Linked DNA regions of Homo sapiens: region 1 is linked to region 2. Evidence: fine-mapped expression QTL. A gene starts in region 2. The other region holds a variant in brackets. All regions are shown on one strand. Distances are between the middles of the regions. Region 1 overlaps PIWIL2 (piwi like RNA-mediated gene silencing 2). Region 2 holds the start of NUDT18 (nudix hydrolase 18).

Evidence for each region. PIP is the estimated chance that this variant, and not a neighbour inherited with it, causes the effect.
Region 1: its variant is the best candidate, but not a certain one, in a credible set for the expression of NUDT18 in pancreas (GTEx, PIP 0.71).

Annotation. Positions count from the first base shown.
Region 1 is chr8:22,327,596-22,331,595 of GRCh38, forward strand. All of the region lies in intron 20 of PIWIL2 (piwi like RNA-mediated gene silencing 2), which reads left to right. Among named protein-coding and RNA genes, the nearest start is that of SLC39A14, 38 kb to the right of the region's middle. The variant T/TA (reference allele first, on the strand shown) is at 1,531.
Region 2 is chr8:22,107,167-22,111,690 of GRCh38, forward strand. It overlaps NUDT18 (nudix hydrolase 18), which reads right to left and starts at 2,253. Exons shown (of 3, transcript NM_024815.4): 1 at 1,973-2,253; 2 at 967-1,180; 3 at 1-729. The coding sequence starts at 2,134. The coding sequence ends at 134. RefSeq lists enhancers at 53-197, 594-1,367, a cis regulatory region at 125 and a silencer at 1,827-2,606.

The DNA of each region.
Region 1 (4,000 bases), 220 kb after region 2:
ACCTCAGGTGATCCGCCTACCTTGGCCTCCCAAAGTGCTGGGATTACAGGCATGAATCACCATGCCCGGCTTGAATCATCACTGTTGTGAAGTATCTCATTGTGGTTTTGACTTGCGTTTCTTAATGACCAGTGATGTTGAACATCCTTCATGTGCTTGTTGCTCGTTTGTGTCATTCAAATCCTTTGCCCATTTAAATTGGGCTATTTGTCGTTTTGTTGTTGAGTCGTAGGAGTTTTTAAAATATTCTGGAAACTATACTCTTATCTGATGTATGATTTACAAATATCTCCCCCCATTCTTTAGATTTTCACTTGCTTGATAATGGTCTCTGCTGCACGAAAATTTTAAATTTTGATAACATGCAATTTATCTATTGTATCTTTTGTTCCTTATGGTTTTGGTGCTCAATCTAAGAATTCATTGCCAAATCCAAGGTCATAAAAGCTTGTCCCCTGTTTTTTTTTTCTAACAATGTTATACTTTTTAACTCTTACATATAAGTCACTGATTTGAGTTATACAAAGTGAGGTAAGGGTCCAGTTTTATTCTTTCGCATCTGGATATCTACTTGTCATAGCACCATTCGTTGAGAGAATTCCCCATTGAGAAATCTTGGCACCCTACTTGAAAATCAATTGTCATGGATGTTTGGGTTTATTTCTGGACTGCTAATTCTATTCCATTGGTCTGTGCATCTCATTTTATGCCAGTAACACACTGTTTTGATTATTGTTGCTTTGTAATAAGTTTTGAAATTGGAGAGTGTGAGTCTTCCAACTTTATTTTTCTTTTTCAGTATTGTTTTTGCTATTCAGTGCCCCCTTGGAATTGTATATGAATTTGAGAGAAGGTTTTTTTGTTTCTGCAAAAAAAGGCCATTGAAACTTTCATAGGGATTGTATTGAATATCTAGATTACTTTGAAGAGTATTGTCATCTTAACAATACTGTCTTCCAGCATATGGACACAGGATGTCTTTCTATTTATTTAGATCTTTTTAAATTTCTTTCAGCAGTGTTTTGTAGTTTCCATGTATAAGTCTTTACCTGTTTGGTTGAAGTTTATTCCTAGCTATTTTATTCTTTTGGATGCTATTGTAAATGGAATAGTTTTAATTTCATTTTTGGGTTGTTCATTGCTGGCATATAGAAACACAACTGTTTTTATGTGTTGATCATGTACCCTGTAACTTTTCTGAATGTGGTTATGAGCTCTAGTCGTTTTTTTTTTTTTTTTTTTAATTCTTTGGGATTTTCTAGATACAGAATAATGTCATTTGCTTATGGGAATGGAGTCTTCTTTCTTTTCAGTTTGAATTCTTTTTATTTCCTTTTCTTTCTTAATTTGCTTAGTTTATTTCCTTTTCTTCCTTAATTGTTATGGCTAGGATTTCTATTATGGTATTGAATAGCAGTGCTAAAATCAGGCATCTTTGTCTTTTTCCTGATAGTAGAGGCAAAGGTTTCAGTTTTTCACCATTGTATATGATGTTAGCTCTGAGTTTTTCATAAATTTCCTTTATCATGT[T/TA]AAGAAAGTTTCTGCTCCTAATTTGCTGAGTATTTTTATAATGAAAGTGTGTTGGATTTTATCAGATGATTTTTCTGCATATTAACTTTTAACAGTCTTGTTCAGATTAATACCAAATTAATTTTAATAGTTGTGTCAGGCCATTCTTGCATTGCTGTAACAAGATACCTGAGACTGGATAATTTATAAAGAAAAGAGGTTTAATTGGCTCATGGTTCTGCAGGCTTTACACGAAGCATAATGCTGGCATCCACTCAGCTGCTAGGGAGGCCTCAGGAAGCTTACAGTCATGGTGGAAGGTGAAGCAGAAGCAGGCACTTCACATGGTGAAAGCAGGAGTAAATGAGAGAGAGAGAAAGTGAGAGAGAAGAAGAGGCGGTACACATTTTAAGTGACCAAATCTTTGTGTAAACTCAAAGCAAGAGCTCACTTATCACCAGGGGATGGCCCAAGCCATTCCTGAGGGATCTGCTCCTATAATCGAAACACCTCCCACCATGCCCCACCTCCAGTATTGGGAATTACATGTCAACATGAGATTTGGCAGGGACACACATTCAGACTGTAGCAATAGTATATAGAAACTTTGTTCCTGTATAGTTCTATTCTCTCCCACTTTCTTGGTGCTAATTCTGTATTAGCATTCCCCAGAGAAACTGGACTGATAGGGTGTGAGCATGTGTATAGATTTATTTTAACAAATAGGCTTACACAGTTATGGAGGCTGGCAAGTTCAAAATCTGCAGGATGAACCAATAGGCTGGAGACCCAGGGGATAGCTGATGTTGCAGGTCAGCTTTGAGTTTATCCTGCTTGGTGTCCCTTAGGCTTTGGGGATGTGTCCGTTAATGTTTTTCCTCAAATTTGGGAAATTTTTGTGTTAATTATTTACTCAGATATTCTTTTTGCCCCTTCCTCTTGTTCTTCTCCTTTTGAGACAGCAAATATTTATATGATGGTGTGTTTGTTGGTATCTCCCAGGTTTCAGAGGCTGTCTTCATTTTTCTTTCTTATTTCTTTTTCTTATACTGGATATAATCTCAACTGACATCGTTTCTGGTTTCCTAATTATTTCTTCTGCTTGCTCAAATCTGCTGTTAAGCACCTCTAGTAAATTTTTCATTGCAGTTACCATAGTTTCTCACTCCTGAATTTCTATTTGGTTCTTTCTTGTAATTTCTGTGCCTTTATTGATAGTCTTTATTTGGTGAGACACATTCTCATACTTTCGTTAAGGTCTTAAGACATGGTTTCCTTTAGTTCTTTGAACAATATTTAAAATAGTTGATATAGCCGGGCGTGGTGGCTCACGCCTATAATCCCAGTACTTTGGGAGGCCGAGGCGGGTGGATCACGAGGTCAGGGGTTCGAGACCAGCCTGACCAACATGGAGAAACCCCATCTCTACTAAAAATACACACATTAGCTGGGCGTAGTGGCGGGCACCTGTAATCCCAGCTACTCAGGAGGCTGAAGCAGGAGAACTGCTTGAACCTGGGAGGCGGAGGTTGCAGTGAGCCGAGATCATGCCACTGCACTCCAGCCTGGGCAACAGAGTGAGACTCTGTCTCAAAATAAATAAATAAATAAATAAATAAATAAATAAATAAATAAATAAAAATAGTTGATATAAAGACTGTCTATAGGACCACGTCTGGGCTTCCTCAAGGACAGTCTCTGTTGACTTTTTTTCCCCATGCATACGTGTCCTACTTTTCTATTTCTTGGCAAGCATCATAATTCTTTGTTGAAAACTGGAAATTTAAGCTGGGCACGAGGTGGCTCACGCCTGTAATCCCAGCACTTTGGGAGGCTGAGGCGGGTGGATCCCCTGAAGTCAGGAGTTCGAGACCAGCCTGGCCAACATGGTGAAACCCCGTCTCTACCAAAAATAGAAAAAATTAGCCTGGTGTGGTGGTGGACTCCTGTAATCCCAGCTACTAAGGAGGCTGAGGGAGGAGAATTGCTTGAACCCAGGAGGTGGAGGTTGCAGTGAGCCAAGATTGTGCCAATGCAGTCCAGCCTAAGCTACAGAGCGAGACTCTGTCTCAAAAAAATAAAAATAAAAAATAAAAAGTTCTGACCTACAGAGGATTCAGATAATTGATCAGACACATTTAAAAGTAACTTTTAGCCAAGGTAGGAGGATAGCTTGAGGCCAGGAGTCTGCAACCAGCCTGCTCAACATAGTGAGATCTCGTCTCTACAAAAAAGAAATTAAAATTTTTAATTTCTATTTTTTTTTGTTTTCTATTTTATTTTCTTTAATTTCTAAAGCCCGAGGAGTTCAAGGTTGCAGTGAGCCATGATCGCATTACTGCACTCCCTCTTTCAACAGAGCGAGACCCTGTTGCAAATAAAAATAAAAATGACTTTTACCTAAATTCTTCAAAGAGATGAAATACAACATTAAGAATTTTAACAAAGAATTAGAAAGCATGAAAAAAATTGGAATTTTTAGAAATGAAAA
Region 2 (4,524 bases):
GGACCAGGAGAGCCGCCCCTGCTCCCAATGCAACAAGATCCCTGATCGCCAGCCTCTTGCCTCCCTCAGAGGGAGACAAGTCCGCACTGGAGGGAGCACGGCTGCCTAGCTCCCTGTCACCTCCCCCACCTCTCTATCTGTTCACTGGGACAACAGAGGATCCCTGAAGCCGCTGGAGGAGCTGGCTTTGCAGGTCTTCCTCCATCACCTTCCACCAAGAGAAGTTCTCACCCCGAACTTTTGGGGGTTCATCCTGGATCCCTGGGCTCCGAAAAGCCACGGTCACCAGCACATTCAAACAGATGCCATCACTGTGATCTCGGCCCAGGTGCTGCAGTCCAAGCAACCCCTTGATCTCCACCACCAAGTGGTGCAGGGTCAGACACTCCTGCAGCAGCCGCAGGACGGCCATCTTCATGCCACCCCTCTGCTCCATAGGGTCGAGGCCACAGGCAGTGACAGGCAAGTGAGGCATCCCCACTGTGCCCACTAACACCCACACTGTCTGGGCGCTGGTAAAGGTAGCCACGAGCCGCTGGCAGACCAGATCACAGGGTAGCTCTTGGGGCAGAATGAGAGGGTGCCTGGCTTGCTGGCGATACTGGGCGGCTAGTTCAACCAGGTGCAGGATGTCATGGGCTCGCAGCGGAGTGGGCAGGGAGGTCCGTGGGTACCAGGCAGCCTGCAGGGACTCCGCATCGGCCTCCTTGGAAGTCTTGAGAATTCCACCTGGGGGAGATGTGGGGGATGGGGCAGGGAGGGTCTGTGTGGAGAGAAGTGCAGCTCTGGCAGAGTCAACAGACATCCCTGACCCAGGAGAGAGGCCCCCAGCCCAAAGGCTGGAATCTGCCCATGCCAGGCTGTGCCAGCCATAACAGGACTGGCTGTAGAGGGGCTCACCTCACCGAGGAGCTGGGGGAAAGGTGTCAACTGGCCCTGTTCACACTGCCTCCAGGTGGGCCATACCTGTGGGGCGAGCGAGGAACACGAAGCGGACCCAGGAGGGGCCCCGCTCCTCCACGGACAGCAGTGTCTCGGGCTCACAGTGCAGCCCCGCCTCCTCCTTCACCTCCCGCTGCAGCGCCTCCACGATGGTCTCCCCTGGCTCCATTCTCCCCGCAGGCAGGTACCACGACCCCCGGCACTCCCTCTTGGCCTCCTGGATCAGTAGCACCTCATCCTGAGAGGAGAGAGGATCCTCACTTCCTGCCACAGCCTTCCCTCGCCCCGGGACCAGGGGGCATCTCAAACACAGTCGCCCAAGACTCCCCTCTGGGTGGACACTCTCAACCCAGCTAGCGCTCCAGGAGACCTGCCCTCGTGTCGCTGGGGGCTGCAGCCCTCTCCTCTCTGCAATTCGTCTCTCTCTGGATTTAGGAAGACTTCCATTTCAGGAAGGGCTGAGATTCCTGGAAGCCGCTTCAGGGGCTGGAGATGAGGCCCCAGAGTGAGGGTCACCATGTGTCTGTCTGTCTTGGATTGATTTGCGTCTGTACCTGCCACTGTGTATCTCTCGCCTCCAACGGCGTGGTTTACAAACTGTGATGGGTCCTCACACTGGGGTCTGGCTTGAAACACGACCCCCACCTCCGCTCTGTACAACCCCGCCCTATGGCCCTGGCCCCGTCTAGTTGTCATTACATCGCCCACTACAGGCATCAGCACCAAAGGCCTGAAGGTAAGCCGGGATTGAGCCACTGCTATCTGAGGGGCCCTGGGCACTCCGCTAGACTCTGGGGAAGGGAAGGAATGAGGCCTAGTCGGATGAGACAAACAGGCCCCGGGCCTCAGTTTCCTCTTCTGCATATCGGGACGAACGCAGGACACAGATGCGAGTGGGAGTGGGAGTGCTTTGCAAAACTGGGAAGCGCCACGCACGCGGCAGCGCTGGCTGTGGCCGTTGGGTCTTCTGTCCCCACCTGGGCTGGCTGCGCGCTCCCGAGGCCCGGCGGGCCCGGGGGCGGCCGCTCACCTGCTCGCTGAGGAACACGGCCAGCACCACGTAGCACACGTTCTTCCGCAGCCGCACGGGCGCCGGCGGCTCCCCGGCCGGCGCCGAGTCGCAGCTGTGCACGCTGGACCCCTGGCCAGCCAGCACGGAAGCCAGCGCCCCCGCCAGGCCCTCCGAGGCCATCGGGTCCCCCGGGGGGCGGCGGGCCGGATCCTCGCAGACCGACTGAGCCGAGCCGCGGGCTAGAGTGCGCTGCGGAGCCCGCTCCCAGTCCCTGCGGCAGCGGGCCGGGAGCTCACGAGAACGCGGAAGCGCACGCGAACGCGGAAGCGCACGCGAGCTCTGGCCGCTGATAGGCTGCGCGGCGCCGCGGCCTGCCCGGATTGGCCGGCCCGCGGCATTCACCGAGGGGGCGGGGCCGCCCGGGGCCGCCCTGGAACTGGGGGGGCACGGGTCCGGAGCCCAGCGGACCCCGCCCGGCTTCTGCCGCCTGTCAGTCCCGTGCGCTCGGGACGTCTCCCAGCCGCCACCCGCTCGCCAACTCCCCGAGCGCGCACTGGTCTGCAGGAGCTCCGACGGTGACGTCATCTTTCCTGCAGGGCGCGTTGCGCCGCCGGGGTAGGCGACGGTGACGCGACAATCCGGTGACGTCACGGAGGCCCGGGGCCGCCCCCTGGAACCACTGTCCCGCTGTTGCCGTAAACACACAATGGCATTGCCGGAGTTGATCATATCCCAAATACCTTTCTTCTCATTCCACCAAAGAGTTATAAATGTCACATGGCCCGTGGGGTGGGGGACATAAACCCCTGCCTTGAAGGAGATTCTGCAATAGTTGGAGAGATGGACGGAGTCCTAGATGAGGAGTCAGCTGAGGGTTCGAGGCTAAGTGCTAAATGCTTGGTTTGGGCAGGAAGAGTGACAGGCGCTGGAAGGAGGGAGGGGGCAGGGCTGGGGATGGCGGGAGGGGTCCGGGGCTGAGAGAAGGCTGCCGTCAGCCGGCCCACCCTCATCAGTGTCCCTCTGCCTACCGCATTTCCCACGCAGCTCAAGGCCCTCTCTGCTGCAGATGGTGCGCCCTGGGAGGGCGGGGGTGGGGCCCTGCTCCTCCATCCTTGTCGTCACCCTCCCACCCAGCGTGCAGGACCTGGCGCGTGGAGAGCAGGGTGGGGGTGGTTGTGGCGAGCGCCTGCTCCTCTCCCAGCTCGGCCTTTCCTCCTTCACCCCACCTCAGCACTGGAAGGCAAAGCCAGCTGGAAGGGATCTGCGAAGCAGGCCGTCTGGCTCCTCACCTGGCAGAGGCCACCCCTTTCCTCTGCCTCTGATAGTTTTGTGCGCCTCCCTGCTAGGGAGACTGTGGCTTGGTGGTGTGGACAAAGCTCAGGACCTGCAGCCAGATGGCCAGCCACTGCTGACTGGCTTGCTCTGTGCTCCTGGGTGAGCTGTGGGCCTCAATTTTCTTATTTGTAGAGCAGGATCATAGCAATTCTTCTTTTACAGGGGTGTTGGGAAGCCACAACAATTGGAGAGGAGCTGTGTGGATTGTCCAGCACTGGGCACCGTCCCCAGGCAGCCCACCAACCCTCAGGGGTGGTCCCTCTCCACCATAGCTCTTGCTACCACACGCAAGGCCTGCCCTCATGAAATGTGACTTTTGTTATCCCCTAGAGTCAGGGTTTCACTGTGTTGCTCAGATTGGAGGTGCAGTGGCGTGATCACAGCTCCTACTGCAGACTTGATCTCTTGGATTCGAGTCATCCTCCTGCCTCAGACTCCTGAGTAGCTGGGACTGCAGGTGTGCACCACCACGCCTGGCTAAATTTTTAATTTTTAATTCTTTGTAGAAACGAGGGTCTTGCTGTATTGCCCAGGCTGGTCTTGAACTCCTGGCCTCAGTGATCCTCCCACCTTGGCCTTCCAAAGTGCTGTGGTTGCAGGCATGAGCCACCATGCCTGGCGAAATGTGCCTGTAGAGCTGCCTTAGAACTGGACTCAGGAACTTCAGCAACGCAGGATGCATCTCTTTAGGCTCCTCTCACCTGCTGATACTGACCACAGGCTCCCTGGAGGCAGGGCCCTGTGTTAGGCTGTGGGATATCACTAGAAGGCCCATGAATTTTGAGGCACTTGCTGAACGCCGCTGGGCCAGGCCCTATCATGGACCTCTCACCTTCCAAATAACTGCAGGCACAGGACCCCAGGACTGCAGAGCAACTTGTCAACATATTTGCTCTGTGTGTGTGTGTGTGTGTGTGTGTGTGTGTGTGTGTGTGTGTGTCTTGCGGCACACACATGTGTGAATCCCTCAGTTTTCCCACCTGTGAAGTGGGGGAAGTTGGACCCAGACTCCTGTCTGCCTCGCAGGGATGATTTGAGAGAGTGAGATCATGTCTAGGCAGGGATCTGGGAGCTTCAGAGGCAGCCTAAGGTAAACAACAGAAGGCCTCACTGCCCAGAGAGCAAAGACCGCAGCAAACCGTGGCTCCACGCCTCCCATTATCCCGGGGGGTAAAGCCCTCCCCCAAAGCCTCTTGTAAACTGTGAAGGGAGTGCTGAGACAACAAAGAGGCAGG